2 separate regions of the Homo sapiens genome follow, and region 1 is linked to region 2. The links come from fine-mapping of genetic effects on gene expression. A gene starts in region 2. The other region holds a variant in brackets. All regions are shown on one strand. Distances are between the middles of the regions. Region 1 has its middle 27 kb from the start of SEPTIN5. Region 2 holds the start of SEPTIN5 (septin 5).

The links.
Region 1: its variant is fine-mapped to the expression of SEPTIN5 in whole blood (TOPMed, PIP above 0.99).

What each region holds. Positions count from the first base shown.
Region 1 is chr22:19,679,252-19,695,358 of GRCh38, reverse strand. No RefSeq gene overlaps it. Among named protein-coding and RNA genes, the nearest start is that of SEPTIN5, 27 kb to the left of the region's middle. RefSeq lists enhancers at 2,831-3,390, 6,373-7,221. The variant A/G (reference allele first, on the strand shown) is at 7,142.
Region 2 is chr22:19,705,154-19,721,260 of GRCh38, reverse strand. SEPTIN5 (septin 5) reads right to left here and starts at 6,758. Exons shown (of 12, transcript NM_002688.6): 1 at 6,630-6,758; 2 at 6,470-6,480; 3 at 1,563-1,659; 4 at 1,369-1,455; 5 at 1,023-1,146; 6 at 807-941; 7 at 595-712; 8 at 392-493. The coding sequence starts at 6,672. SEPT5-GP1BB (SEPT5-GP1BB readthrough) reads right to left here and starts at 4,041. Exons shown (of 12, transcript NR_037611.1): 1 at 2,443-4,041; 2 at 1,563-1,659; 3 at 1,369-1,455; 4 at 1,023-1,146; 5 at 807-941; 6 at 595-712; 7 at 392-493. It overlaps LOC124905079 (a long non-coding RNA gene), which reads left to right and starts at 6,466. Exons shown (of 2, transcript XR_007068003.1): 1 at 6,466-6,564; 2 at 11,427-12,271. RefSeq lists enhancers at 1,475-1,975, 1,976-2,476, 2,824-3,464, 3,465-4,106, 12,109-12,616 and 2 more and silencers at 2,068-2,247, 2,652-2,822, 2,799-2,978, 2,989-3,408.

The DNA.
Region 1 (16,107 bases), 26 kb after region 2:
TCGCCTCTCCTTGCCTGGCCACCTCCTGGCAATATTTCCCGCCTCTTCTGCACTGCTCGCTGACCTTTGCTGGTGTCAGGCCTTTGTTCAGGCTTGTCCCCACTTTTTAGCACGGTTTAAGCAAAGTTTAGAGGAAATTTTTCTAAATTTCGGTAAAAATTTGAAAAACATTAAAAAATTTCTCAAAGTTATTTTAGCAAATGTGCTTTTGTCTGGAGGCCGGCTCCTCCTGGCTGTGCTCTGAGCCTGCTGGCATCCCCGACAGGGCCTGCTGCCCCAGCACTGCTGCTTGACCAGTGGCTCTCCTGCACATTTCATTTTTCACTTACACATTAGGCTCTCCCTCAAGGGAATCAGCCCAAGAGCAGGGCCCTGCGGGCCTTGTCCACACTGCTTCCCCGAGGCGCATAGAAATGACTTCTCCCCACCCTGCGCAGTGACTCGTAATCCCAGATCGCTTGTGCTCAGGAGTTTGAGACCAGCCTGGGCAACACGGCGAAACCCCGTCTCTACCAAAACAAACAAACAAACAGCTAGGTGTGGTGGCGCATGCCTGTGGTTCCAGCTTCAGGAGGCTGAGGTGGGAGCATCACTTGAGCCTGGGAGGCAGAAGTTGCAGTGAGCTGAGATCGCGCCACGGCACTCCAGCCTGGGTGTCAGAGTGAGACCCCATCTTGAAAAAAAAAAAAAGAAAAGAAAGAAATGACTTCTCCCGTGCAAAACTGATCCAAGGGTCTCTCATGATTTTTGTTGTTCATTTGCTTTAGTGTAGGCAGTGTGAAGACCTCACCTGGGTGTGCCACCAATGGAGGCTGCAGGCCCCGGCTCCAGTGAAGGCTGGTGCTGCTGCTGCCCTGTCCAGGACGGCTCTGCATCTTCCTCCCAGAAGCCCAGACTCCCCTGTGGGCTGCCCACCTGGCTGCAGCTCCTGAATGTCTGGTAGGCATCACACCCTTCATGGATGCACCTGCAAAGAAACTGCACTGTGCTTGCCCGGGGGTCCCCCGTCTGACTGGTGACTGCACCATTTGCTCAAATAAAATCCTCAGGGTCACCTACTTGTCCTGCATTGGATCCATCAGCAAGTCCTGCCGATTCTATCCCTAGATGCATTCAAAATGTTCTCGCCTGGCTTCATCACCACCTGTGTCTGTGTCCTGAGGCACTGCAGACCGGTGGCTTAACCACAGGCATTTATTGTCTTGTCTCGGAGGCTGGGAGTCCAAGATCAAGGTGTGGGCAGGGCTGGTTCCGATTGAGGCCTCTCTCCTTGCCTTGCGGGTGGCACCTTCTCCCTGAGTCCTCCCGGAGTTGTCCCTCTGTACATGTCTGTGTCCCAATTTCTTCTTAGAAGGACACCAGTCATATGGGATCAGGACCTACCCCCTCATGAATTTATTTTAACTTAACTACCTCCTTAAGGACCCTACCTCCAAATACACATTCGGAGGTCCTGGGGGTGAGGGCTTTGGTGTGGAGTTTTGGAAGGGAGAACATAAATCAGTGCATAACAACACCCATGCCACCCTCATCCCTGCTGCCTCCGCTCAGGCCTTCCATCTGGGGCCACACTCGTCCTCACGTAGCAGTGCCGACTGTTCAGGTCGCCACTCCACCTGAGCCATGCGCACAAGACCCACGTAAGGAGACCTAAGGCCTGGAACTTAGACTCTTGGGACGCCTGCCCGGGACGAGGTCAGCAGGCCCCTCACTCTCCTAGACACAGGGGCCTGCGCACTGCCCGGAGTCTCCCAGTCCTTCTCTGTGCCAGCACGGATTGGTATTTTATTTTAAATGACAGCTTTATTGACACAATTCAAAGACCATACAATCACCCACTCAAAGTGTACCAGTCAGAAGTTGTTGGCATATTCAGAGTTGTGTATCCATCACCACTGGGTAACTCTAGAACATTTTAAACTGAGACGTCATTCACACACCATAAAATCCCGACACGTGCCCCAACACCGATGAACCTTGAGGACGTTATGCTAAGAGACGCCAGCGACGAAAGGGCAGATACCATGTGGTTCCACGTATGTGAGGTGCATAGAGTAGTGAGGTTCATAGGCACGGACAGTAGAATAGGGGTTGCCAGGGGTTGGGGGCAGGGGATGAGGGGGGCTGCTGTTTAATGGGGGCAGGTTTTAGTTTTGCAAGATGCATAAAGTTCTGAAGATGGATGGTGGTGACGATTATACAACACTGTGAATGTATGTAATACCACTGAACTGTGCACTTAAAAATGGTCTGGGTGCTGTGGCTCACACCTGTAATCCCAACACTTTGGGAGGGCGAGGAGGGCAGATCACCTGAGGTCAAGAGTTTGAGACCAGCCTAGCCAACATGGTGAAATCCTGTCTCTACAGAAATACAAAAATTAGGCCGGGCACAGTGGCTCATGCCTTTAATCCCAGCACTTTGGGAGGCCGAGGCAGGCTGATCACGAGGTCAGGAGATCGAGACCATCCTGGCTAACACGGTGAAACCCTGTCTCTACTAAAAATACAAAAAATTAGCCGGTGTGGTGGCGGGCACCTGTAGTCGCAGCTATTCGGGAGGCTGAGGCAGGAGAATGGCGTGAACCTGGGAGGCGGAGCTTGCAGTGAGCTGAGATTGCACCACTGCACTCCAGCCTGGGTGACAGAGCAAGACTCCGTCTCAAAAGAAAAAAAAATTATCCAGGCATGGTGGCAGGCGCCTGTAATCCCAACTACTCGGGAGGCTGAGGCAGGAGAATCCCTTGAACCCAGGATCAGGCTGTGGAGGTTGCAGTGAGCCGAGATCACACCACTGCACTCCAGCCTGGGAGATAGAGCAAGACTCCATCTCAAAAAAAAAAAAAAGACTCAAATGGTAAATATATGTCATGTATATTTAACTACAATTTTTTAAAAAAGTAAATAATTAAAAATCAATCAAATGAAAAGTTGCAGGCCAATGGGCCTAGAGTGCTGCCGGGTGTATTAATATGTCGGCAAAAGAAAAAAATGCTCATGCATCCATGCATCCATGTGCCTGTACTTGTACACACCACCCTGGAAGGATACCAAAGAGCTGCCCCGTGAGCCGGTGACAAGGATGGCATTCCTTAGGTGGGTGGGAGCCCCAGGCAGGAATCTCCACAAGTGAGTCCTTTCATGCTCCTGGAACTTGGAATCTTGGGACTCTGTTACCTATTAGAAAAAGTTAAAAAATTAGTTGCCAAAGGAGGCCAAGCTGAGGGAAAAGAGCTAAAGCTTCCAGCAGCGATGGTGGCCCCACCCCACCAGGCCCCACCTTGGGCGGGGGCTCCCGGGAAGAAGCCAGCCTGTCCGGTGAAAGCTTGAAGCTCCTGTTCTGTAAGGAGCTGAGTAATGGTGACATACCAAGGCAGGTCAGCAGGGAAGAAGGCGACTTTGTTTATTCCTTCCCTCCTAACCTCACACATCTTCCGCTCAGAGGTCCAGCAGTGTGCGGTCGGCCCCGTCCCAGTGGCTAGACTGAACGATCTGCTGAGACCACGGAATTCTGAGCAGAAGGCGTTCCCAACAGCCACGCTCACACCCAGAGCACAAGCTCCCGGCCAAAAGCCGCCTCCCTCGGCTGCACAGGAATCTTAACATGCGGGATTATCCACTGAGGAAAGAGTGGAATGGAACAAACAGAAAAAGTGAAGGTTCCTGTAAAGGCGATTAAAATCGACTTAGTTGGCAGCCGAATGTTAACACTGCTGCAAAGCCTTAAAAAGAAAGCCAGCCATTTTATGCAGAATTTACATCCCAGCAGCCCAAGAAATGAGGCTCTTACCTAATTAAGGAGCAGTAACAAGGCATATTACTTGCTTCTGTTTTTATTTTTACCTTTCGGATAATTTCCAAATAAATTATTACCAAGCTGTTTTGAGGTTTGAGAATAAGAAGAAAATCTGATATTCAAAATAAGGAGTCGTTTCATGGTCTCTGACTGATAAACAGACATCCATTAGCAAAATGAGAGAGACACATTTTCCTAGATCAAATTTCCAAAGAAATGAAGTTTGTTGTGTTTTCTTGTCAAAATGCTGGCTGCCTCTGGTGTTTTGATGAAACATTTTCCTCTGGAGAATAAGAAGATTCTGGAAGTGTCTTGTGTGTTTGGAGGGCTAAATAGATGATAGACATAGTGATGCTGTTAGAAGTTAGGGCTCTCTTGTAGAAGGAGGTACAGATACGGAATGACGGACACAAGGAGGAGCCTGCAGGGCCGGGCAGGACTAGGAGTGACTGTGAATTCATGGTATGAGTTATTATGGATGCATTATAACTAATTACACGATAATTAAAATTAATAGTACAATCACATATTAATAATACAACTATATTAATAATATAATCACAATTCAATGATGTTTAATAGTATTATTAATTGTATATTTATTTATACATATTATAATAATCTCACAAATAATTTTTTTCTAGGATCTAAATGATACCATGGTAAAGTGAGCACAACTCATGCCTGGACCCCAGTGTGGAAGAAATACTCTGTTCTAAGAAAGCTGGCCTTGGTCGGGCGTGGTGGCTCACGCCTATAATCCCAGCACTTTGGGAGGCCAGGGCAGGAGGATCACTTAAGCCCAGGAGTTTGAGACCAGCCTGGGCAACATAATGAGACCCCATCTCTATAAACAATTTTAAAAATGTAATCAAGTATGATGTTGGGGACCTGTAGTCCCAGCTACTTGGGAGGCTGAGCCAAAGAGCCATGATCCTGCCAGGGCGCTCCAGCCTGGGCAACAGAATGAGGCTCCGTCTCAAAGCAAAGAAACAAAAACAAACAAACAAAAGGAAGCAGGGCTCCTCAGGGAAGTGGCTGCCTCCAGCGCTGCAGCAGTTAAAGTGCAGGCTGAGCCGGGTGCAGCGGTGGTGCCAGGAAGCAAGGGCGTGCTCCACCATGACAGGGACACGGGGCCGGTCAGCCAGCATCCAAACAAGCCCCACAGCCACTGAATATAACTCACCGAATCAAAGAAAACCCCACAAGCCTTCACTGGTAGCCAGAGGGGAGACTGGGCAGTTTTCCTTACGGTGGAAAGCCAACTACTAAATGGAGAAGAAATGAAGGAGTTAGAAAATCACTATGTTGAGTGGGCATAGTGGCTCACGCCTGTAATCCCAGCACTTTGGGAGGCCGAGACAGGAGGATCGCTTGAGCCCAGGAGTTTGAGACCAGCCTGGCCAACATGGTAAGACCTCATCTCTACCAAAAAAATTTTCAAAAAATTAGCTGGATGCTGTGGGATATACCTGTAGTCCCAGCTACTTGGGAGGCTGAGGCTGGAGGATCCTTTGAGCCCAGGAGTTTGAGGCTACAGTGAGTCATGATCACAGCACTGCACTCTAGCCTGGGTGGCAGAGTGACACCTTGCCAAAAAAAAAAAAAAATGGTAGCACAATGTAGATTTTTACAGAAGGAGCAAGAAAGGCCACGAAGCAAAATGTTTAAAAGCAACAACTTGAAGTGAAAGGTTTAAGGAGCTCATTGAGCTTTCCTTTTCTCCGGAAGACCCCAGAGAGAGCCCTGAGTGGGTCTGTGGCCATTGGGAGTCTCTGGCCACCACAACGGGAGCTTGTGGTCCTGTAGGAGCTGATGGATGGGTCAGCATCGCCTGGGCCGAGTGCCCATGTCTGCCATGTGACTCGTGGTCTTCCACAGCAGACACTCAGCTCTCTACATACAGGCGTGGCTGGTACGAAAGCCACAGGGGCTCCCCCAGGGCCCCAGCTCAGGGTCGGACGTGGGATGTGGCCGGCCCCAGACTCTCTGCTCGAGCTCATCTGTGCAGCCTCACAGGGGCTGGCCCTGCCACGGGTGCCCCTCCCGGGCCGTGCACCAGGAGGTTTCCACCCTGACCTGTGAAGATGCAGCGCTCTTCGGATCTGAGCAACACACTTCATTCAGGATGGGCCTTTCCCAGGACAGCACTGATGGGAGCTTCCTGTGCACACCTGTTGGGCTGTGCTTCTCCTCGGAACATCCGGTTAAGCAGGAATGGGGCCTGTGTTGGGGTAAGGGGCTGCTCCACTCCCTCCATGCCCCACCTGCAACTGTGCAACCACCTCCTGCATCCAGCCAAGCTGAGGGGTCCACATGGATGGTCAGCAGGGTTTCACCTGGCAGTGAGATCTGCCCCCTGCACTGGGGGGACGAGGGCTGGTCTGTCCTCATGTCCTGCCCCAGTGGCCACCCCAAGCCCCAAGGGAAAAGCAGCACAAGTGTGTCTGCTCCCCACTGCGTAAGGGCACCTGCTCCTCTTTCCACCGGCCAGCTCCTGGATGCCCCACACCCGCAGCCTGTGAGCAGAGGGTGGCAGGAGGGAGAGGAGGTGACAGAGAGCCCAGAGATAAAAGCCAATGTGTGGGCCACTCCTGAAGGCTGCAGGCACAGAGACAGGGGGCACCTATCAGGGCTTGGGGCTGAGAGGACGCCCAGAGCTGCAGGCGGAGAGCAGGGGTCACTGCCAAGGGCTCTGGCCAGAAAACCAGGCATGGGGCTCTGGGGAGCCTTCAAGGAAACAGGCCCGGGGCTGTGGGCTGAGGCGGGGCTCTGGTGAGACAGCTCCTAAACCCCAAGCCAGCATGGCCATGCTGGGTCCCTGACCTCCAAGGCCATTGCTCTGGGGGATAAGACACGCCCAGTAAGCAGGATCCCAACATCTACTCATCCCGGCAGCCTCTGGGCCTCTGCAAACCCTGCTCGGGGGGAAGAGGAGGCTGAGGGGGAGGCTGCACCAGGCAGAGCTGTTGGGGAAGGGCCCCTGGATGCCACATGTGAACCTCAGAGAGGGCAGGTGTGTGGGCAGGCACGGCCGGGCCACGGGAGCACGTGTCCGGGCAGGGAGAGGGCAGTGGGCCTGGGCTGAGCAGGTTGGGGGCCCTGCGAGAGAGACTAGGGAGGTCTCCAGAGGGGTGGCATGCCCAGGGTGTTAGGGAGATTGATGTGGCGGCAGCAGACCCCCGAGGAGGCAGGGGTGAAGGTGTCACCCAGGAGGCTGCAGACAGCTGGCCAGCCGGGGTCCGAGGGGCCAGTTAATGAGGAGAGAGCCAAGGGCCAACGTACCCAGGAGGAAGGAAGGAAGCCAGGCCAGGCAGGGATGGGTGGCGAAACACAGCGTGAGACC[A/G]CAGTCATGAAGTAACTCCCGCAGCCGCTCCACTCAAGCCGGTCCTGAGGCGGTTTCCACACTTGTTGGCTGTGACTACAAATTAAAAAGCCAAGTGCAGACATCAAGGCTGCCCTGCAGCTGTGACACCCCTCCCCGCCCCACCCACCACGCCTCTGACTCCCAGCCGAGGGCCGAGAGCCCCTCCTGAGCACACCCCATCCACCCAGCTCCACAGTGTGCACAGGGTGTGGCAGCCTTGGATGCAGAGAAGCACCTTGCAGCCTCCCCAACAGGTTCCCGCTGGCCCAGTGCCAGCCCTTGCCCCAGTTGTGCAGGGACCTGCGGAGCTGTGCTGCAATTCATTTCTTTGGCAACAATGACCTGAGAGAGCCTGGCCTTAAGAGCGAAGATAAACGGGCTCTTCGACTAGGATGTCCTTGTCACAGCGGGAGGGAGATCTGCAGCTGGCCCTGCTCCCTTACCCCTTTGCACAACGTGAGGAGCCCCTGAGAAGAGCCCATGGACCACGCCGAAATGCAGGGTGCTGTGGGGTTCTCCAAGGAGGAGGCCAGGCCCTTGTCCTCAGCTCAGCCCCGGGGGAGGAACCCAGGGAAGGGGAGACAAATTTTGCAGGGATGTGGAGTCCCAGAGAGCAGGGCCCCTGTTCAGAGCCGAGAGGGGCCGCAGGGCGTGGGGGCAGAAAGAAGTGCAAGGGCTGTGCACCAAGGACACAGATCAATAGCCGGTTCCTCAGAGTGCAGCTGAAAAGCTTAAAAGCTTTGAAAATGCAATGTCTGGGTTCTGCCGGTGAGCACCTAATAGTGCTCTCTGAGAGTGGCCCCCGACTCTGCCTTTTTTTTTTTTTTTAAATGCAGATACCGGTTTAAAGCTAGACACACTCTCAGTTAAGTGTACACCAGCCTCACAGACTTCATGATCCAGACTTGTTCTACGTGACCCAAATTACACATGACTGCCTGTTATGTGCTTTAAAATATTTTTTAATTGAATTTTTTCTGTGGAGATCATTGTAGATTCACAGGCAGCTGTAAGAAATAACACAGAGAGGTCCCTTGTACCCAATGGTACCATCTTGCAACGGTAGGACATCATAGCCTGGATGCTGACACTGGTACGGTCAAGATACGGGATATTTCTGTCACCAGAGACTCCCTCCTGCTGCCCTTTTACGGTCACACGCACCTCCCTCCCACCGAAGCCCTTTCCTAACCTCCAGCAATGGCTGATGTGTCTTCCATTTCTAGAATGTTGATTTCAACAGTGTTATGTAAGTGGACATGGAATCATATAGTATATCATCCTTCAGGCCTGGCTTTTTCCACTTAGCATAATTCTTTGAAGATTTATGCCAGTTGTTGCAGGGATCAATAAAAACTTCAATTCTTTTTTTTCCTATCAGTATTGTATAGTTTTCAGTGTTCAAATTCTGCATTTTTAAACTTAATTTAATTTTTTAAATCTTTTTAGAGATGAGGTCTCACTTTGTCACCCAGGCTGGAGTCCAGTGGCATAGATCATAGCTCACTGCAGCCTTGAACACCTGTGCTCAAGTGATCCTCCCCTCTCAGCCTCCTGAGTAGCTGAGGCTACCAGTGCACAGCACATACCTATGTTCTATATATGTTAGATTTATACCTAAGTGTTTCATTTTTTGAGGGATTTTAAATGGTATTGTATTTTTAATGTCAGTGCCCATGTGTTTGTTGCTAGCATGTAGAAATAGAATTGACTTTTGATCGTTTATCTTATGTCTTGCGACCTTGTTAAACTCACTTATTAGTTCTAGGAGGGCTTTTTTGAGGGTAGATTCCTTGGAATTTTCTATGCAGAGACAATCATGTTATCTGTAAATGAGGGCAGTTTTGTTTCTTCCTTTCCTGTCTGTGTGCCTTTTATTTCCTTTTCTTGCCTTATTGTACTGGCTAGAACTCCCAGCTCTGTGCTGAGTAAGAGTGGTGAGAGCAGGCATCTTCTCTTTGGATCCTGGAAGGAAAGAACTTAGTTTTCACCATCAAGTATCACATTAGCTGGCCAGGCGCGGTGGCTCAAGCCTGTAATCCCAGCACTTTGGGAGGCCGAGGCGGATGGATCACAAGGTCAGGAGATCGAGACCATCCTGGCTAACATGGTGAAACCATGTCTCTACTAAAAATACAAAACATTAGCCAGGTGTGGTGGTGGGCACCTGTAGTCCCAGCTACTTGGGAGGCTGAGGCAAGAGAATGGCGTGAACCCAGGAGGTGGAGCTTGCAGTGAGCTGAGATCACGCCACTGCACTCCATCCAGCCTGGGTGACAGAGTGAGACTCCATCTCAAAAAAAAAAAGAGTATCACATTAGCTATAGGTATTTTATAGGTGCCCTTTACAAAGTTGACAAAGTTCCCCCTTTATTCCTAGTTTTAGAATTTCTGTTATGAATGAGTGTTGAATTTTGTCAAATGCTTTTTTTTTTTTTGAGACGGAGTCTTGCTCTGTCGCCCAGGCTGGAGTGCAGTGGCATGATCTCGGCTCACTGCAAGCTCCGCCTCCCGGGTTCACACCATTCTTCTGCCTCAGCCTCCCAAGTAGCTGGGACTGCAGGCACCCGCCACCACGCCTGGCTAATTTTTTGTATTTTTAGTAGAGATGGGGTTTCACCATGTTAGCCAGGATGGTCTCGATCTCCTGACCTCGTGATCCACCCTCCTCAGCCTCCCAAAGTGCTGGAATTACAGGCGTGAGCCACCATGCCCAGCCGATTTTTGTCAAATGCTTTTTGTGCATCAATTGATATGATTTTTCTTTGTTAGCCTGTGAATTCAGTGGATTACATTGTTTGCTTTTTGAATGTTTAACCAGTCATCCATTCCAGGAGTAAACTCCACTTGGTAATGGTGTACAATTATTTGTATGTAGTGCTGAATTCTATTTGCTAATATTTTATTAAATATTTTCTTGGTCTATATTCATGAGGGATATTTTTCTGAGATTTTCTTTTTTTCTACTATCTTTGTCTGGTTTTGGTATCACTGTAATTCCAGCTGCATAAAACAAATTGGAAAGTCTTCTTTCCTCACCTATTTTCTGGAACAGTGGTGATAAATTTTTCTTTAAAGATTTGATAGAATTATCTATTTAAACGATAGGAGTCCGGAGATTTCTTTTTTTAGGAGTTCTAAAATTATTAATTAAATTCCCTATTCAAATTATCTTTTTCATATTGGGTAAGTTGTGGTAGTTTGTATTTTTCAAGAAATTGGTTCATTTCATCCAAGTTGTCAAATTTATATGTATAGAGTAGAGTTATCATTCCTGATATTGGTAATCTATGTCTTTTTTTTTCTTTGGTCAGTATTGATAGAGTTTTGTCAGTTTTATTGACCTTTCAAAGAATCAGCTTTTGGCTGGGTGTAGTGGCTCATACCTGTAATCCCAGCACTTTGGGAGGCTGAGGCAGGAGGATTACGAGGTCAGGAGTTCAAGACCAGCCTGGCCGATATGGTGAAACCTCGTCTCTACTGAAATACAAAAGTTAGCTGGGCGTGGTGGTGCGTGCCTGTAGTCCCAGCTACTCGGGAGGCTGAGGCAGGAGACTCGCTTGAACCTGGGAGGTGGAGTTTGCGGTGAGCCGAGATTGCGCCACTGCACTCCAGCCTGGGCAACAGAGCAAGACTCCGTCCCCCTCCCCCCACAAAAAAAGACAATCAGCTCTTTCTTTCATTGATTTTCTCTATTATTTTTATAAGGATTTTATTAATTTTTGCCCTTATCTTTTATTATTTTCATCCTTCTGCTTGCCTTGGGTTTATTTTGCTCTTCTTTTCCTAGTTTCTTGAGGTTTTTGAGCTTATCGATTTGAGACTTTTCCTCTTTTCTAATATATGTGTTTAATGCTATAAATTTTCCCCATCCACAATGCTTTTTCTGTGTTTTGACATTTGTACTCCATTTTCATTCAGCTCAATGTATTTTTTAAAATATCTCTTGAAACTCCTTTTTCCCATGGATTACTTATAAATGAGTGGTTTAGTTTTCAAGTATTTGGAGGTTTTTCTGTTATCTTTCTGTTGATTTGTAGTTTGAATTCATTGTGTTTGGAGAACCCACACCATGTGATTTCAATTTTTAGAAAATTGTTAAGGTTTGTTTTGTGCCCCAGAATATGGTCTATATTGGTATATGTTTCGTGGGCACTTGGAAAGAAAGGATAATCTGCTGTTGGAATAAAGTGTTCAATAAATGTCAATTAGATCCTGTTGGTTGACGATATCATTGCGTGCTTCTATTTTCTTGCTGATTTTCTGTCTAGTTGATCTATCAATTGTTGAGAGAGGAGTGTTGACGTATCCAACCACAATAGTGGATTTGTCTATTTCTCCTTTCAGTTCTATCCCTTTTTGTTGTATATATTTTGCAGTTCTGTTGTTTGTTAGATAAATGTTTAGGATTACTATGCATTCTTGTTGCATTGACCCTTTTATTATTGCATGTCAGTCTTATCCCTGGTAAGTTTCTTTGCCCTGAAGTCTGCCTCATTTGATACTAATATAGCCACTCCTGCTTTCCTTTGATTAATATCTGTGTGAAACATCTTGAAGTGAATTTCTTGTAGATAGTATATAGTTGATACATGTTTTAAAATCCATCTTACCAATCTCTTTTAATTGGTGAGTTAAGACATTTACATTTAATGTAATTATTGATATGTTAGGATATAATTGTGCCATTTTATTTATTTATTTATTTATTTATTTTTGAGACGGAGTCTTGCTCTGTCGCCCAGGCTGGAGTGCAGTGGTGCGATCTCGGCTTACTGCAAGCTCCACCTCCCGAGTTCACGCCGTTTTCCTGCCTCAGCCTCCCATGTAGCTGGGACTGCAGGTGCCCGCCACCACGCCCGGCTAATTTTTTGTATTTTTAGTAGAGACAGGATTTCACCGTGTTAGCCAGGATGGTCTTGATCTTCTGACCTCATGATCCTCCCACCTCAGCCTCCCAAAGTGCTGGGATTACAGGCTTGAGCCACTGCACCCAGCAATTGTACCATTTTATTCTGATCTGTTTTCTGTTTGCTCCCTGTTTTTTGTTTCTGTTTCCTTTGTCCTGACTTCTTATCAGTTAAACATTTTTTAGAATTCCATTTTGATTGATCAATAGTGTGGGTTGTTTTTGTTTTTTGTTTGCATTTTTTTTTTTTTTTTTTTGGAGACAGAGTCTTACTTTGTTCCCCAGGCTGGAGTGACATGACTCACTGTAACCTTAAACTCCTGGGCTTAAATAATCCTCCCACCTCAGCCTTCTGGGTAGCTAGGACACAGCCATGTGCCTCCATGCCCGGCTAATTTTTTAATGTTTTGTGGAGTAAGGGTCTCGCTATGTTGCCCAGGCTGGTCTCGAACCCCTGTCCTCAAGCAATCCTTCTGCCTCAGCCTCCCAAAGTGCTGAGATTATAGGTGTGAGCCACTGTGCCTGGCCCTCCATCGTGTTTTTGAATGTAGCTCCTTGTACAGCCTTTTAGTGGATGTTCCACATTATATACAACTTATCACAATCTACTGATGGTGTCATTTTTTCAGTCTGAGTGAAGGGTAGGAAACTTACCTCTCTTTGTATCCCATTATCCTGCCCCATTTATAATGTAATTGTCTTAAATCTTTCCTATACATACACTTAGAATCACATTAGGCAGTGCAATAAATTTTGCTTCAGCCATCAGACATAACTTACAAAATTGAAGAGGAGAAGAAAAGCCTATTGTATTTACTCACATTTTTACTTATTAGGTTTTTTTCCTTCCTTCCTTATTTAATTATTTCCTTCCCATTTAAATAACTTCCTTCAGCTGGTGTTTTTGGGTAAGTCTTTGGCAACAAATTCTCTTAGTTTTCCTTCATTTGAGAATGTCTTGATTTCCCTTTCATTCCTGAAGGATATTTTCACTGCATATAAGATTCTGGGCTGATGGTTCCTTTCCTTCAGCACTTGAAAAATATCGTGCCACTTCATTCCGGCCTCCATCAGTCCCGAAGGGAAATCTGCAGTAATGCAAATGGTTTTTCCCTATAGAGTATTGGTACTGGTATTGGTATTGCTTTCTCTGGCTATTTTCAAGATTTTTGCTTTGTCCTTAGTTTTTAGAAATTTCACTGTGATGCGCCTTGGCATGGATTGCTTTGGGTTTTCCTTGTTTGGGATTCATTCTGAATCTGTAGGTTTGTGTCTCTTGCCAAATATGGGGAGTTTTAGCCGTTGTTGAGTACTTTATCAGCCTTGCACGCTTTCTCCTCTCTTTCTTAACCACCAATGACACAAATATTAGGTCTTTTGTTGCAGTCCCACATATACCTGAGACTGTTCTTTTTTTTCTTTTTCAGTCTATTTTCTCTGTTGTTCAGACTGGGTACTTTCTATTGTTCTGTCTTCCAGTTCACTGGTTCTTTCCTCTGTCCCCTTCATCCTGTTCTTGAGCCCATCCACTGAGTTTATACTTCAGTTATTGTATTTTTCACTTCTAAAATTTCCATTCCAATTTCTTTATATCTTCAATTTCTTTCCTAAGATATTCTCTCTCTTTCTTTGCTGAGGCTATTTTTTCATTTGTTTCAAGCACGTTCTTAGTTGTTTGCTGAAGCATCTTTATGATGGCTGCTTTACAATCTTTGTGAGCTAATTCTAACGTCTTTGCCACCTACTGTTGGCATCTACTGATTGTCCCTTTTCACTTAGTTGCATTCAACAGTTTCAGTCCGTTGCATCATACTGAGAACCATCTTCCTGGTAATGAGCGGTTTTCTATTGAAACCTGGACATTTTTTGTGTTATGAGACTCTGGATCTGATTTAAATTTTCTGTTTTTCAAACAGCTTTATCGAGGTATAATTGATACCCAAGAAACTACATATTTAAAATAGGCAGTTTGATGAGTTTTGACATATGTCTATACAGACCCATGAAACCATCACCACAATCAAGGTAATAAACACACCCATCAGTCTTCTCTATTTTTTTTTTTTTTCTTGAGACAGAGTCTTGCTCTGTCACCCAGGCTGGAGTGCAGTGGCACAACCTCGGCTCACTGCAACCTCCGCCTCCCAGGTTCAAGCAATTCTCCTGCCTCAGCCTCCTGAGTAGCTGGGATTACAGGCGTGCGCCACCACGCCCAGCTAATTTTTAGAGTTTTAGTAGAGACAGGGTTTCACCATATTGGCCAGGCTGGCCTCAAACTCCTGGCCTCAAGTAATCCAGCCGCCTTGGCCTCCCAAAGTGCTAGGATTACAGACATGAGCCACCATGCCTGGCCCCAAAGTCTTCTATTGCTGCTTTTGTAAACATTGTGGTGTTGTGCTGTTGTTGTTTTTTTGACGCTGCTCTGGCCCCTTGTTACTGCAGGGTGGAAAAAAGTCCAGGTTCCCCACTCAATCTCCGTTTATACCCAAGGGAGCTCTTTTTCTCTTTACTCTGGGCAGGGTCTGGCTCCCCATGTGGTTTCTGCTGACAGCCCATTGGGGTGGCCTCGTTACCACTGAGTAGTAGTGAAGAGCCAGGCTCCTCGCTTTGCCTCCTCTGACACCAACCCCCACCCCCAGCAGGGAGGGGGAGAGGGCGGCATTACTGGCAGATGGGGTGGAAGCTCAGGCTGTTCCACAATGGGGTATGGGTCAGGGGTGGGTGCGGCGGTCTCGGCTCCCTCCTTGGCCTCTCTGACACCACAGGGGGAGATGTTGGGGTTCCTTGCCACGGCTTCCCAAAGTGGGGAGCCTAGGCTCCCGCTCAGCCTTTGCTGGAGTGGCCGAGGGTGTTTCGGTGGTGATGGCTGGAGTAGACAGGTTATCGCCTAAACGTTTTGACCTTGCGAGGCTGCTGCCTCCTGGTCCTTTGGCTAGACACAGCAGCTTTCATTGGAGTAATTTTGTCTGTGTCTGTTGGCGTTTCCAGGTTGCTGGCTTCTTCAGCTCCAGGAGTGAGATATATGAGGCCAAAAGAAACCACATGGAGCTGCCCGCCCCGTCATCCTTGGGTCCTGAGGTCCCTGACGGATCTCTGCTCTTCTCTTCACCTTTCAGAATCCGCTTATGTTTGCTTTCTGTGTGGTGTCCAGGCTTTTAGCCGTACATAGTGGGAGGAACAGGGAAAAGTACTTCTACTCAATTTTCCTGGAAGTGGAAGTCCCTGTATTTTTAGAAACCATTTCCCCTGGGTGACCCTTGTGCAGTCAGTTCTGCAAGGCTGAGCGGTGGGCTTGGGAATTGCCTTGGCTGGCTCTGGCTGCCTTTCCATCAGCAGACACCTGAGAGGTCCCCAGCATTTTAGGCGACTGGGACAATAGAGAACCACTTCTATTAACGGGTCCGAGCTTACAGAATCCACCAGGGCCTTGGAGACGCCCACCCAGTGGGGTGGGGTCCTGGTCTGGAACTGGGAAGCTCCAGGGACAGCAGCCTCCTGCAGCCCACACCGCCCCCTGGTGGCCGAGCCTGACCAGAACCGGGCCAGGGCCTGGTCCGGGGTTCTTGACCCTGGACGGTGGGACCATGCGTCCTCTGGAGCAGGTGCTTGGGGCAGAGATGGGAGCACCCTGGATCAGGGTGGAGATGCGTACAGAGCAAGTGTATGCACTTTCTAGAAAACCTCCCCCAGAGGTCACGACACACGGGGGAGCCCCCATCACCCTGTCCTGCAGATAAGTGGCCCAGGTGTGGGACACCAGCTGGCCCCAACACGCTCTCTGAGCTTGGGGAGTTAAACCCTAGAGTGCCCTGACAGGCTTTCTGTCTAGCTGGGGCCCAGCCAGGGGTGGTGGCTTTGTTAGATTGGACTGCTATTAAAAAATACTGTAAACTGAGTGGCTTAAACACAGAACTGTATTCTTCACAGCTCTGCAGGCTGGAAATCTGAGACCAAGACGCAGCTTTGTTGGGTTCTGGTGGGAGCCGCTTCCAGCTGCAGATTTTTTACTTCATGTTTAATCCTCACGTGGCAGAGG
Region 2 (16,107 bases):
CACCCAAAGCCACCAACCCTGGAGCTCAGAAATCTGGGAGCCAGGGTGTGCCACTGGGGCAGCCCCTTCCTCTGGTGACCCATGGGAAGAGGGTTGGGGTTGGGGGCCTGGCCCACTGCTGCACCTCTGGATCTGGGCAAGTGCTCCATACCTGCCAAGCACCACACGGGGCCCACATGACCCACCCCAGCCAGGCAAAGACATGGTGACCTTTACCTTCTAGCCCTGGATGAAGGGGGTACAGGTCCTCTACTCCTAGAACAAATGACTCTTGCACCCAACTGGGCTGACCTGGCCCTCCTCCAGCAGGCTCAATGTGAAGGAGACAAAGCCCTCTGGTTCTGCCCCTCACCAGCTCCATCCCCCCTGCCCCACCAGTCTGCATGTTCACCTTCAGTTCCCGGTCCTGCTGCTTGAAGTCCTCATCCTCGTCCGAGTCACACTCAGGGAACTGGTATACATGGATCCCAAACTTGTCAATCTCCTCCCGGATCTGTGGTGGGGCAAGGACCATCAGATTTGAGGCCAGACAAGTCCCCCTGGTACTCTCAGCCCCAGGGCCCTGGCCAGGCCCCTGTGCGACGGCAGGCTCACCCGCTCCTTCAGCTTCCGGATCTCACTGGGGACAAGACAGTCAGCTTTGGCGATGAGAGGCACGATGTTGACCTTCTCATGCAATGCCTTCATGAAACCCACATCCACTGGCCGCAGCCTGCCGAGAGCAGCCAAGGGTGGGCATAGGCACAGCCAGGGGGCCATATTGTAGGGGCTGCACTCCCGAGCCTGGCCCCAGGACAGCCACACACCCATGCCCGAAGGGGGAGATGAAGTATAGGCAGCAGTGCACTCGGTTGTCTTGGATGTTCTTTCGGTTGAGGCCGCTCTCATCACGGAAGTACTGCTCAAACTGCTGGTCCACATAGTCGGTGATGGGCTTCCAGCTGTGGGCAGGAGGGAGGTGAGGCCAGGCCTCGAGTGCTGTGGCCGCCTAGGCAAGGCCTTTCTCAGCAGGCCTCACTCACCACTCGGTGTTGTTGACAGCGTCCCCGAATCCCGGCGTGTCCACGATGGTGAGCTTCAGCTTGACTCCCTTCTCCTCAATGTCCACCGTGTGTTTTAGAATCTCTACCGTCTGGCTGATGCGCTCTACGGGGAAGGGGCCACTGGAAGGGCCTCTCCAACCCTCAGCCCCTCACCCTTGGCAGCCAGGACCCTCGTCCTCATCCATCTTGGTGCCTTGGCCCTACCCCCAGGGGACCCACACCGCGAGAACAGAACAGTGGGAGCTGGACCTGAAAGGGAGTCCTTGGAGAGGTCCCATGGAAGGGGACTGGGGATCAGTGCCAGGGCCTCCTGGGGGCCACTCACCCTCAGCACTGAGCAGCTTCCGGTCCTTGTACAAGTCTGTCAGGAAGAGGCTGTGGACCAGTGTGGACTTCCCCAGGCCTGACTCACCTGCACACAGGTACAGAGAAGGAGCTGCGTTAGGTCTGGGGCTCCAACGACAGAGCTTGGCTGGCCAGTGACCCCAGCCACTCCCCCGAGGAGCCTGGCCCACTCACCAGCCACCATGAGTGTGAAGTCAAAGCCTTTCTTCACCGACTTGCGGTGCACCTGGTTGGGCAGTGTGGCGAAGCCCACGTACTGCTTGTCAATGTCCTGGGGACAGGATGGAACAGGGTAGGGACACAAAGGTTTCTCCAGAAGCCCAATACCCTGTCTCTTACCAAATGCGGTATGAGGAGACAGCAGAGGGTACGGTTCCCAGGGTGGGGCATTTCGTTGGCAAAAATAAGGGGAGGGCCCGTGGGCAAAAGCCTGGAGATAAGAAGGCAGGCGAGGTGGTGGCAGGAGAAGGCACCCCTGGCCCCAATCCCAGGGAGGGCTCTGCAGGGACCGACACTGTATTTATTCCGTGGGGAGATGTCAGGCCGCAGCAGGCACAGGCGATGTCCTCCCTCCTCGGGCAGAGGGCAGCAGGATTGGGACCCCTGGGACACACTCAAGGCCCTCCATAAGCCGGAGAAGCTGGGGGCCTCGACACTCACCCCTCCGGAGAGTGCCAGGGGGCGGGAGGCCCCACCTGGCCCGGATCCAGCCGCGGGGGCGGCGGCAGCGGCGGTGGCGGAGCAGCGCCTATTTATAGACCGCGGCGCCGAGCCTCCCCCGCCCGCGCGCCCAGGCGCCCAGCCCCCGCAGACCCTTGGGGCCCCTGGAGGGGTCCCACGGCCGCATTCTCCGCCGCGTTTTGGAGTCGCGTGAGGTGAGGCCTGGACAGGGCACGTCGCCCCACCGTGGGGCCGCGGACCTGCGAGGCCGCTGCGGAGGGAAGGGCTGAGCCTAGGCGCTGGCGGGCCGTGGCGCGCGGGGACGGGGACCCCATGCCGAGTCCCGGAGCCCGCGGGGTCACAGACCCACGTTCCGCCCTCTCCACACACGCACCTTGAGCCGCCTCTGGGCCTGGGTCCGCGGCGACAGCAGCTGCTCCACCAGGCGGTCCTGGGGCGCTGCCAGCGAGTCCATCGCGGCGACCCCCCCAGGCCCGGGGGCACGCTCGGACCCCAGGCCCGGTCAGGCCGCCAGAGCCCGGCGACAGCGAGGGACCTTGGCGCGGCTCTGCCTTAGGCTGCGTTGTCCACCCCGTTTTGCGGACGCGGGAAGTGAGGCCTGGACAGGGCACGTCGCCTACCCGGGGGATCGTCGACCCCCGAGGCCGACCGAGCCATCCCCCTGACTGGGCGAACTGGCCCCAAGCTGTGGCGGCGTCGCAGTCCGGGCAGGCCCCGCTCCCGCACCCGAGCCAGAGGCGGGGCGTCGCAGGCGCCCGCGGAGCGCGCGGCGGGGGGCGGCAGAGACGGCCCCGCCCGCCGTCGCCGGGAAACGGTCGCCTGGAAATTGGGCCGCGGGCGGAGCCACCCGAAAGCGGCTGCGGAGGGCAGGGCTGAGCCGAGGCGCGGTCGGGCCATGGCTCGCGTGGACCGGGAGCCCTGCCGCGCCCCCGGGGCCTCAGTCCGGGCTCCAGGACAGCAGGAGGGGACGACCGGGTCCTGCACGCGGGCCGGGGCGGGCCGGGAGTCGGTAGCCACCGCGCGTCCCGCCCCCAAGAGGTGCTGCGCGGCTTCCGCCCGCCAGAGGGCGCCGGAGGCCGCTCCCGGGACCCACGCGCAACAGCGCGGGTACCCGCCCAGTTCAGGGCCCGCCGTCTTCTCGCAGACTTGCCCGAAAACCTCCCGGCGGCGTCTCGACGCCCCAAGTGCCCACAGACACGCCGCGCCCTGCACCCCTCCCCAGCCCTGCTTGGGGCTGACCTCCCCCGTGCGTGCGTGCGTGCGTGCGCGCGTTTGTGTGTGCGCGTCCGTGCGGGTGTGTGTGTGTAATGTGTGTGTGTGTAATGCCTGCGTGTGTGCGCGTGTATACATGCGTGTATGCGTGTGTGTGTACGTGTGTGCATGCATTGGGTATGTGCGTGTGCGCGGGTGTGTGCATGTGTGTTTGGTGGACTCTTTCCCAAGACATTCGGGGGACCGGAGGAGGGCAGAGCCCACCTTTTCTGAAGTCCAGCCTGCCTGTCCCCTAGGAGGCTTAGGGTGGACAGAAGGGAAGGGAAGGGAAAGGAAGGGTGCAGGCTGCCGGAGTACTGGAGGTCCCTGCAAAACTTGGAAGCCCCCGCCAGCCTGCTGAATAAACGCCGGCCACCCATGCGCTGCCCTGCAGCCCTCAGGTGGCCCTGCCCTCAGAGACAGGGGTGGGGGTGGGATGGGACCCATCTCCCACGTGCTTCTGTGGACATTCCCTTGCCCTCTGAGCATCCTCACCAGCTCTGACCCACAGGATTGGAGGGACTGGGAGCTCCTGCCAGCCGGGCCTCCCTCCCATGTGGCTACTCCAGGGACTGCGGGGGTCTCCCGAGCTCCGCTCTGTGGGCCACCCACCTCCATGACCCCAGTAGAATCCCAACAGGCAAGCCCAGCGGAGCAGGACATGGGGCCTGGAAAGGTTCCAGGGTAGGACTGGTCAGGCCAAGCCCCTGCACATTAGAACATTAGAAGCTGGAGGCCCCAACCCCACCCCACCCCACCCGCCACCAGCCCTCCCTTAGGCTCTCCTGGCTGAGAGACCTCCTCCACTTCCTGTCCAGGCCCTGGTCCTGTTGTGGGGCCTGGACCACTGGCACCTGGGGAGGAGGGGCAGGCCCACAGCTGGGAACAGGAGAGCCTTTCATCCCAGGGAAAGGGGGCAGCTCCAGGCCCCCCAGCTCTACCAGTGCATCCCTCAGTCCTTGCTGCCAGAAAGCCTCCTCACTGGCCCCAGCCTTCCATGGCCCTGACCTGCAGGAAGCCTCTAGGCTGAGTCCCACCCAGTTTCCAACTGAGGGTCCACACCTCGAAGCCCAGCACCCACCCAGACAGGCTGGCATCTCAGGCCCAGGGCATCTCCAGGAAGACAGACAGCCCTGGGCCTAGGCCTCAGGCTAGGAGGTGTCTAACAGAGTGTGTGGCTCTCAGACTGCCTGCCTCAGTTTCCCCATTGGTAAGGCACAGCCTCTGGGGAGGCCCAGGTCAGGAGGGCAAGAATCTCACTCTCAGCGTTCAACCCACCTGCCCTGCCACCCACTGGGGCCCAGTCAGGGCCTGTGGATTCCCTGGGGGAGCCTCAAGGAAGGGGCCGTACCTGCCACCCCCTTTCTCTGGTCCCCAAGTGACAAAAGATACTCCCAGGGCTTCCTGAGCCATATGACACAGCTGCGCCCATCTCCTCCCAATGCCTGAGCCTCTCTGGCACTTCCATTCTTAGAATCACCCGAGTCAGCTCTGGGAGCAGCAGCCAGGGCCAAGAGATCACCGGTGCTGCCTGTGAGGAGGTGGGGGCACAGAGCGTAGTGACGGAACTCCCCCAATGCCTCTACAGCCCCCTTTCAAAGAGCAAAAAGAATGCTTGGACAGGCTGAGGCTCAGCAACGGTGGTAGCAGGGAAGCTGCCATGTGCTTCCAGCTCCCCCAGACCCACTGGTCACCCAGACACCTGGCCTGGCTCCTGCTCCGGGGCTCCCTTCCTTGGCCACACAGTGCCTTCTTCCTCTGGGCTTGGAGGCCTGGGAGGCCTGGGATGGGGTGAGGTGGACTCCCGGTTGACCTCAAACGATGGGCACCTCAGCAGGAGGGGGTCCCCACCCTGCAGTAATGGGCAAGAGAACCTGGCTGCACCCAACAGCAGTGGCTGGAGCCCAGGGTCTCAGAGTGCCCTTGGGTCAAGCTGGGGACACCTGCAGGCACAGGAGAAGCCTCAGGGGCCTGGCCTCCTGGCTTTCCCAGCCTCAGTTCCTTCCATTTCCCTCAAACAGTAGCCTGACGCATGTGTCCCTGCATCTCAGGCTTTGTCTGACCTGCTGTGATGGGGAGGCAGCTCCCAGCCTGGCTCCCCAAGGGGCCCCTCCCAGAGAGCCTCATCCACCTCTGGGTGGGGTGTGTCCCTTCCAGGAGAATGGCACTGGTCAGCCAGTGACTCCCCCAGCTCCTGGCCCCCCTGCCCGCCCTCCTGCCCTGCCTGCTGCACCCTGGGCCAGGACTCTGGAGTTCCACTCAGCATCCATGGCTCCTGAGAAACTCCATCCCTGATGGGGGCTGCCAGTGCCACCCTGGTGCCAGAATTGGGCTCTTCTTTTTTCCTCCAAAGATGGCTGAGCTCAAGCCAGAGAGGACACCAGCAGGCTTTCCCCAGCCCCCCCAGCCCACCTGGTTGTCAGCCCCCGCCCCACCCCAGGGGCCTCACAGCATTGTTTAACCCTGAGCTCGGCTGGGTTTCACCCAGGTGCCTAGACCAGCCTCCTGTCCAGTCTTGCTTTCCTGGAGGGTGGGGCCAACCCTTTTGAGAAGCCACAAGCCTATTTGTACCCACAGGGTCCCAGGACCCATCTGGGCACCCAGAATGACTCAGACCAGACCCTGGGGGTTCCCAATCTGGGGAAGAGTCCCTGTTGCAGACCTGAACACTCAAATTTGTGTATGGGGAGGGAAAGGGGCATGAAGGTGCAGGGGAGGTGGGTGGTGACCACAGGCCCTCTGCTGTAGGGCTGTTCAGGGACTGTGCTGGCTGATGGAGCCTGACTCCCCTCCCCCAGCGTGGCCTGCCACGACCATGGCCTCACCCAGGACCCCCAGCTCATGGCCTACAGGCCAGGTCAGCAGGAGATGCTGGCACTGGCCCTGTGGGAGGGGGACACTCTGCCCATCCCCCCATCCTGGGGAGGGGCGCAGGGTCCCTGCTGTGCGGGTCCGGGGACCAGGGCCCCCACTCCTCTCCTCTGAAGCCCCAGGCGCGGCGGCACTGCCCGGCTGACAATCGGTGATCGCGACAGGGCTGGGTGAGGGCCGGCGGGGGCGGGGTCGCGCCTGGGCGCCCAAGGCGCTAGTGTCACAATGGGTGACAGCCGGCCGGGTCTCCCGGCGGGGGAGCGGCGCTGCGCACGTACCTGCTTGTCCTCTGCGGGGTCGGGGTCGGGGTCGAGTCCGGGTCCGGTTCCGAGCGGGTCCGGGCCGGCGGGCGGGGGAGAGACGGAGAGACACGGTGAGAGGCGCGCGGGCGGCGGGGACAAAGGCGCGCGCGGGCACGCGGGCAGGCGCTGGGCTCACCTGGGGTCGCCAGCTTGCTCTTGTACCGCAGGCCTGTGCTCATGGTGGCCGCCGGCGGGGGACGTGCGGGGCGGGCTCGCGGGCGGGGCGCGACGACAAGCGGCGGAGGCCGAGGCCGGGCTGCGGGGTGAGCGGCCCCTCCGCGCCGCCGCCGCCGCCGCCCGCTCCGCCCGCGCGCCCGGCAGCCAATCGGCGCCCGCCGCGCCCACGCGCGACCCAGGGCGGCCCGGGGGGGCGGGGACCCAGGTCCCCCACCATGGACCCGAGACCACGGCCTCGGGGCGACGCCCTCGCCTCCTACAGCCCTGGCCGCGCCCGGGGTCACCCGACCAGACCCGCGCCGCCCCCGCCCTGCACGGCTGTTCCTGCCGGCCTCCTCCCCGCCACCTCCCCGGTGCCGCAGCCCAGGCCCAGCCTTACGCTCCCCCCGCCCTCGCTGGGACCCGGGTCCATGCCGGTCCTCGGACCATCCGTCCGGTGGCCCTTCTCTAAAGCCTGCCCTGGCTTTCCGGGCCAGACCCTGCACGCTCCGCCCCACCCCGCCGAGGTCAGCAGGGATGGTCCTGGCGCGGCTGGCCAGTGCCCAGCATTGCCCCTGCTGACCGCTCGGTGCTGCGCAGACCTGCTCTGCGAGCAGACGCACCTGGCAGGCTGTAGGCCACAGGCTTTTGGGCAGTGGTCCGGCCTCTCTCTTCCTGGGCTGTAAAATGGGATTATTTGTGAAGAGGAGTGATCTGAGGTGTCTGGCAGGACCGGCCCTGACCGTCTCACCCCAGCTCTGCGCCTGCTTCTCTGCTGACCCATAGGCTGTGGGGATGCTCCAGGCAGACCCGATCCCACCCTGCGGAGAAGGCTTGTAGGGGACCGAGGGGCACTGTGAAGGCAGGGCCAGGGCCTGCACCCCATTTACAGAGGGGGAAGTTCAGGCCCTAATCTTCAGTGAGTCAGCCAGACTCAGTGACTGAGAGCAAGTCTCTCCGGTCATTTGTGTCACTATCACATTCCCAGGTGTCCTCCGCCTGGACTTTCCCAAAGTGTCCCCAGGCGGCATCTCTGAAGGCTTTGGGGCTGTCAGGCTTGCGGTCACCACCTCCCCAGGTGAGGGCCCCCTTGTATGGAGATGTCTCCTGCACCCCGTATAGACAGTACCTCCACAGCCAGGGAATCCGCCTCTGCTCCCCACCCGTCCTGTGCCCCTTGGTCCCTCTGCTGGCCCGTGGGCTCCCTGGGTGGAGGGGGGTGTCGCTAGGGCCTTTCCATCTCTGAATCACCAGCACCCAGCACGGTAAGTGAAAAATTCATGTAAGCCGCGTCTTTGTTCCACAGTCCTTGCTCTGCTGCATTCTGTGGCCAGAGCGCCGTTGACCATAACCCTGCTCTGGGTCTAGAACTCTAACCAGTGTAGGGATCCCCCACAGTCCCAACCTCTCATCCAAGATGTGTTTGGAACTCAGGCTTTTTTGTATACATCATACATTATGTGGCACCTCTTTGGAACCTGGGGCTGCTCCTCATAATCAGACCCATTTATATTTTCGGGGCAAAACATATGTATTCAGGTGAACTGGAAGAAATAAAGACAGTAAGTGATGGCGCATCGTTCAGGTCCAGCTTTGCCACTGAGTTTTGAAAAACCTTTATGTTTCTGAGCTTTGGAGAATTTGGAATTTCGATAAAGAAATGTGTGTTGAGGTCAGGAGATCAAGACCATCCTGGCTAACACGGTGAAACCCCGTCTATTAAAAATACAAAAAATTAGCTAGGCATGGTGGCACATGCCTGTAGTCCCAGCTATTCAGGAGACTGAGGCAGGAGAATCACTTGAACTCAGAAGGCGGAGGTTGCAGTGAGCCGAGATCGCACCACTGCACTCCACTCCAGCCTGAGCCAAAGAGCCAGACTCCGTCTCAAAAAAAAAAAAAAAAAAAAAAAAAAAAGAATGTGTGTGTGGGGGTAGGGGCACTCAAAGGGCCAGGCAGGACTTCTGAGCATAGACAGGACTTTTTGGAAAGAATTGGAAAATGATGGTTGGCTGTTCACCACGTGCTGACCCATGCAAGCCTGTGCTTGTGGAGACAAAGGAGGAGAGACAGGAGCCCTGCCCAGGGGGAGGCAGGCAGCCTGTGAAAGGCACCAGCTCAGCGCCCCTCCCCATGGCTCAGGTGGCAGGGCAGCTCTGGACAGCCTTGGGTTAGGGGGTTTGAACTTGGCCTTGAGACAAGTGCATAGCAGGTCAAGGGCATAGCTCAAAGGGTGGGAGGCACATGTATACAGGAGTAATAGGTTTTAAAACAAATCTGGAGATAGAAGACAAGAAAGATGAGGAATACGGCATAAACATGATCTTTTTTAAAAAAGTCTGTCCCAAAAGATTACTTACAGAAATGCAGTTAGATTGGAGACCAGTGTTTAAGGGACAGCCAGCCTGGAGGCTGATGGAATATATAGGACTGGGAGCCACTCCTTGGAAGAGTGAAGTCAAGGGTGGTCCTGGGTCAGCGCCTCATGTAAAATGCCTGGGCTGGAAGGGGGAAGCGGCATCTGCTCCCTTACTCTGGGACTTTGGTCACCATGACTGTGAGTGCAGGGACAGCCCGAGTCCCTCCACAGACACATCGAGGCTGCACCCTGTCTAGCTGGGAGGCCTGCTGGATGGCATAGTGTCTGCATGGGACATTTCTGAAGTCAGGAAAATGGGTCATGAGGGCATCGGTCAGCAGACGCGTCTCCAGTTCTGCCAGGTGAGGCTTTGAGATACTGGCCACCACAATGGAGGCTGACAGCCCAGTGAAACCCTTATTATGCTCCTGTTCACCAAAAAGCCAACCAGGCAGGCCTGGTGGCTCACGCCTATCATTGTAGCACTTTCGGTGGCCAAGGTGGGAGGATGACTTGAGGCCAAGAGTTTGAGACCAGTCTGGGCAAGAATGTGAGACCCCGTTTCTATAAAAATTAAAAATTAAAAAAAAAAAACTGGCTGTGGTGGCATGAGTCTGTAGTCTCAGCTACTCAGGAGGCTGAGGCCAGAGGCTCACTTGAGCCTGGGAGTTTGAGGCTGCATGCAGTGAGCCGTGATGGTGCCACTGCACTCCAGCCTGGGCAACAGAGTGAGACCTTGTCTCAAAAAAAATGAAAAAACAAACAAACAACACCCAAGCCTTGGGGCTGTGGCTGATATCAGGGGGGCTGGAGCCACAGGGCAGTGGTCTGAACACACACACTTACCTCTCCAAGATGCCATGGCTTGAAAGAAAACTGCCTGCCAAAGTGGGTGTGTGCATCCACTTTCCCCAGCAGGCAGAGGAAGCGCTGGCTGTGGTACAAAAAGAAGTAAATAAAGCACTCCTTTGTGGAAAAAAAAATGCTATTTTTTAATTCATAAGGAAAAGAAGTTAATGAATAAAAAAATAAGCTACACCAAGAAAAATCTGTTCAACCAACTTGGGCTACAAATAGCTTGACTCTTTTCAGAAAAAGCCTCTTAGTGAAGAAATTCTCCAGAGGCTGCATTTGAACCATGCTGGGCCTCCCTCAGCACACAGGGGAGTGAGCGCCCCAGGGCTGGGACCCGGAGAAGGATGGAGCTGGTGGGGAGGTGGCAACGGTGATGGCGACGAAAGAATAAGGCACCTGCCATTGGCCCTTGGGAGCAGGTCTTGTGGGTGACAGGCTTCAGAGGGGGAGCAGTTTGCTCCAGGTGACACATGTCGCCACACTCCCAAGCCTGTCATCTGCAGTTAGGGCTGAGGCCACCACTGACAGGTTCCAGATGGCTCAGTCCATCTGAGGCTGAGGATGAGGGAAGAGGCCAAGATGCATGCAGGGTGTCAGGCACCTGAGAGCCCCACAGGCCTACCTGCATGATCAACTCGGGCAACCCTGACCTGTGCTGGGAATGGGGTGTTTTTTCACCCTGAGTAGACGCAGGAAGTGGAGGTCAGGGCGCGGTGGAGATCTGCTTGAGACTAAACAGCCGAGACTAGAACCCACGACCGTGGAGCCCAGGCCTGACTCCTGCAAAGTGCTGTGACCTGGTCGCGGCCCAGCCAGGGGCTGTCCCAATCAGGCAGCTGCTCGAGGCCTGAGCTCACATCCCTTCTATCCCCTGAATTCACCAGCAACCTGGTGGGTCCCAGATGATCCTCCTGACCCCTGCATTTTTCTACTGCTCTCATGCTCCTGTCCCTGCTGTTCCTGAAGCCCTCGCCCGCCAACCCTGTGAGATTTGAACCCACCCCCAGTACCTGGGGGCTCCGAGGGAGGCCGTGTGACCTGCAGCTTCATGCCCCTGCACCTTGGCACTAGTGTGCCCCCTGCCTGGGCTGCCCTTCTCTAGCTCTGCCGACCCAGCAGCACTGTCTCCAGCCCCTCCAGGCCCACCGTGCCCTATGCTGGCCTCTCTTCTGCAGGACATGGCCTGCCAGGCAGCAGACTCCCGACTGGCTCCCTGGCCCCCACACTCAGCCCCTGTCTGGCACCTGGGAAGCTCAGCAGCATCAGCTCCTGCTGGGTGGGGGCACAGGCTCCTAGGCGTGGATTCACAGGGCGGGCAAGGAGGGCCTGACTAAAGAGCCAGGCTCTGGGGAGCTTCAGACTGCATATTCTGAATCCCAAAACCTCTACTGTCTGCAGAGGGGTGCTTGTGTGCTCAGCCCAGCTCAGGGGGGTGTGCGGAGACCAGGAGGTTCTGGGGCGTCCTCCCTGCTCCCAAAGGCAGTGGCTGTCACCGAGCACAAGGGGAAGTGTGTGCACAGTGAGGATTCTACTGAAGAATGTTTTCCTTGATCTCCTTTTCAGAAAAATGTAAGGGGGTCACTGCACAAATCAGTCCTCATCACCGATGGGAAGACATGCCCATTAGAAGAGCACAGAACCCACAGCAGCTGTCTCTGCCTGGAGGGTGCGGCCTGGTCCTGCTTAAAGCCGCCTATGTCTTGCAGCGGTGGACAGAATAGGGCTTCAAGGGGGCTGAGTCTCAGTCCACACCAAGTCCCCGATTCCCTGGGCAGCTGGAGTGAGTGCTACAAAGGGCGCCTGTGCTCCACGGCAGGGAGCCAGCCTGGATCCAGAGCTGAGGGTCTGAGGGAGGTGGGTCTGCAGCCACATCTGATGGGCCTTCAGAGTCCCCTGAAGGATCTGGGACGGCGCCTGCAAGATAACACAGAGAGCAGCCCAGGGTAGGGACCAGGCGTGCAGTGTGACTCAGCTGGGAAGAGCTCCCCACGGTAGGGGGCGGAGGGGAACCCTCCACAGGGATGCTGCCTGAGGGGGCTGCACGGGACCATCCCCAGGCTGTCCCGGCAGGCAGAGGTCCTCACTGCAGTTCTGTGATTTTATGAGAAGCTGAAGGTGGAAGAATAGCAGATGAATGAAGAGATGTGAAATGGCACCAATGTTGATATTCTCCTGTGTCATGCATGGAAGCATGACAAACATCCCACGGGAGCAAGCGCTTGCGAAAGGCAGAGAGCAGGGCCAGAGCACGGTGACCTAGATCCTGCGGCTCACCCCACCCCTCCATCACAAAGAGCTCAGCGCTGGGCTCCAGGGACTGGCTCCAGCTCCCCACTGCATCTACCTCCCAGTCAGGCAAGAGAGATCTGAAAATCACTCTGGAATAAACAGGACCCTACTGTCCCGTCTTCAGGACCTCTGTTCCCTGGACCCTGGTGCTGCGTGCAAATGCACTGCCTGTTGCACACCCAGGCTCCCACGGGGAAGGTGGTTGCCAGAGCCCTCAACTTGGCGGCCCATCACCTGGTTTCGAGGCCTCAGGTGATGGCCATACCTGGGTGAGGATGAGGACCCCAGTCTCAGCTCATTCCCTGCCATTGTGTCCTCTCCAGCCCCCCGGACTGAACGCCACAGAGGCCGCCTCTCCCATGGAGGACAGCCAGAGCTCTGCCTGCCCCAGAATGCACAGCACACATTGCTGCGGGGGCGGATGGTGTGGGTCAGGAGGGTGAGGAGCTGCCATCCCCGGGTGCCATGGCCAGGGCCATTGGCAGAGCGGGGCCAGCCTGCGTGAGGGCTCCTGCTCCCACTTGCAGGGCGTGGTGGCAGCTCTGCCCTGCTCCTCATTTGCCCCAGGTTGGACCCCATTTCCCATCAAGCATGTGTTGCACCCATTGTAGGCTGGAGCCATGATCAGCCCTGAGCAGGGGATTCCCCGTTGGTGGAGACAGACACACCCTGTACCAGGATGCCGCCAAAGTCCTTCCACTTGACTGGGGAAAGCATGTCGCTGGACCTCCGTGGCCAGTGGCCAGCCGGCTGTCACGTCCTGGACTGAAGTGGATTCCTGCCCCTCCTTGTTCCAAAGGCTGCCTTTAAAGTGGTGGAGGCTTTTAGGGTCCCCTAGAGATGGGGGAGCAGCAGGAGACAGAGCCCCTAAGACAGGGGCTGCTTTTGCAGGAAAGGAGGGGCCCCTTGTCCTCACCGGAAAAGCAGGCAGGAGGTACGAGGCTCAGCCCTCAACCCTGCATGCTTTGACCAGCATCCCCTCAGAGGTGGCCGAGCAGGTTTCAGCCAAAGAAGGAAGCATGATCAGGTGCACCTGGGAGCTGAACCTGGGGAGACCCAAGCGGGGCCTTGCAGGGCAAAGGAGTTACTCTGTCCCCTCCCCGGGGCTCTTGCCGAAGGGCTCGTTCTGCAGCCAGGGATCTTCACAGCCATTCAGCTGCAGGCCCGTCTTGAGTGAGTCCTGCCCCCTCTCGCCTGGTGAGCAGCTGCGTGTGGCCCTCTTGGCAGGACAGTGCCAGCGTGCCACCCAGTCCTCCCTCTAGGACTTCCCAACCAGCAAGGGGTGCAGGCGGAGGGCACTGGTGAGGGCAGGACTCGTACCTCTGGTCTGCACTGCAGCTGCCAGCCGCAAATCTCACAGCGGCACAGATCAGAAGACCCCATACACCCGGAGTGGTGGCAGAGACCCTCTTTCCTTGGGGCTTCACGTTGGGGGATCAACATGCCACAAGCCTGCATAGCCAGGAAAGCGGGGCTGGGCCTCGAGTGCTGGCTTAGAGTTCGGGGGAGTACCTGGAGCCCAGCAGAGGGGCCCTGGGCAGGTGCTGGCCACGGCAGGTGGGGTGAGGGAGGCAGGGCTGATGCACAGGGGCTCGGCCTGGGTGAGGGCCTTGTTGGGCAGGTCTCCTTCTTCTGGTGCAGGGCCAGCATGCAATTGGCCAGGTTTGGGCCTTGCTACCAAAACAGCCTGCAAAGCCTTGCCCGACCTCTGGCCCAGGGTCTGGGCCCGTGACTCCCAGACAGACACTGTGACAGACACTGGTCAAACCAAGGGTCCAACTACAGACCCCTGCATCCTCAGAAGCCCCTGTCCCATGCCAGGGCCCAGTCATCTTGCAGCATGGGGCAGGGGCCCATGCCCCACTTGTGCCTCAGGGGACTGTCTTGGCTGCCCTGATCCTCGAGGTTATTTTTGAGAATCACAAAGAGAGCCTACTATCATCATCAACAAGACAGTCTGATTCAAAAATGGGCAAAGAACTTGATTTGGCCAGAGATATGTGTGTGTGTGTGGGTGAAATTCCTGAGATCCACCTCCTTCCAGGCTCCAGGGCCTCCAGCCATCTGCAAAGACCTTTCTGAGTGCAGGCTGAACGCCCTCCATCATTACCGCCTCATTTAAGCAACCCAGTTGGTGGGACCTTGTTGCAGCAACCTCAGCAAACGAATACAGGGTGTCATAGTCTGTTTGGGCTGCTATGACACAACTCCTTAGACTGCAGGGCTTAAGCAATAAACATTTATTTCTCACGGCTCTGGAGGCTGGAAGTCCAAGATCGAGGCACCAGCAGATTTGGCGTCTGGAGAGAGTGGAGCCCACTTCATAGATGATCATATTTTCTCTATAATTTCACATGGTGGAAGGGGTGAAGGGTATCTCTCGGACCCTCTTTTATTATTATTGTTATTATTTATTTTTATTTTTGTAGTGGCAGAGTCTCACTTTGTTGCCCAGGCTGGAGTGCAGTGGCCCAATCACAGCTCACTACAGCCTCAATCTCCCTGGCTCAAGGAATCTTCCCATCTCAACTTCCGGAGTAGCTGGGACTACAGACACACACCACCACATCTGGCTAATTTTTAAAATATTTTTTGTAGAGACGAGATCTCTCTTTGTAGCCCATGCTGGTCTTGAACTCCTGGGCTCAAGTGATCCTCCCACCTGGGCCTCCCAAAGTGCTGGGATTATAGGCTTGAGCCACTGTGTCTGACCCCAGGCTTCTTCTTTTATTGATTGATTGATTGATTGATTAAGACAGAGTCTTGCTTTGTCTCCCAGGCTGGAGTGCAGTGGCACGATCTCAGCTCACTGTAACCTCTGCCTCCCAGGTTCAAGTGATTCTCCTGCCTCAGCCTCCCGAGTAGCTGGGACTACAGGTGCCTGCCACCATGCCCAGCTAATTTTTGTATTTTTAGTAGAGATGGGGTTTCACCATGTTGGCCAGGCTGGTCTCGAACTCCTGACCTCAAATGATCCACCCACCTCAGCCTCCGAAAGTGTTGGGATTACAGGCATGAGCCACTGCGCCCGGCCTCCAGTCTTCTTTTATAAGGGCACCAATCCTTTTCATGCGGCTCCACCCTCGTGACCTAATCACCTCCCAAAGGCCCCACCTTCTAGTACGATCACCTGGAGGGTAGGGTTTCACCATATGAATTTGTGGAGACAAACATTCAAACCACAATACAGGGGCACCCCAAGACTTGGACAGAGGGTACACAGGCAGGGTCCCCGGCTACACCACCAGTGCCAGGCAGACAGGGTCCCTGGGTTACACTGCCAGTGCCAAGCAGGCAGGGTCCCTGGCTACACCACCGGTGCCAGGCAGGCAGGGTCCCAGGCTGTACCACCAGTGCCAGGCAGGCAGGGTCTCTGGGTTATACCACCAGTCCCAGGCCTCTGCTTTGTCGTCTGACTTCAGAGAGGGAAGCCTTCCATCCAGAGGAGGAATCAAACACAATCAGGACTTGTATGTATCTGAAGTGCTTCTTGGAATTCCAGCGTTTGCATTTCAATGGGTAGGAAGTTCCCTCCTGGGAGCCCCTGGGAGCCAGGCCTGGGTGGGGTCTGCATGACCCCCTTGAGCTCCATCTGCTGGCGATCCCAGGACTGCCCCAAAAGCCGGTGCCTGGGACCATGTTGGGCATGGGGCTTTATCCAAGAAGAGCTGGAGAGAGGGCTCGTGGGGTGAACAGGACCCCAGAAGCAGGGAAGAGGGGCTGGGCCAGTCCAGGCTGGGCCAGCACGTTGGCTGAGAGGGGAGGATATGACCCGTGCAGCGGCAAAGGTGAATGGTCTGCCTCACGCCAGTGCTAGCAGCCCGTGGGACCCTGGGCTGAGTCTCTGCCCCTACAAAACAGTAGACACTCACCTGTCCACGGCGGGACTTGGCCCAGGTGATGGCTGGGGACCCTTCTAGCTCTCAAGGCTGCTATGCCTCCTACTCAACAAAGT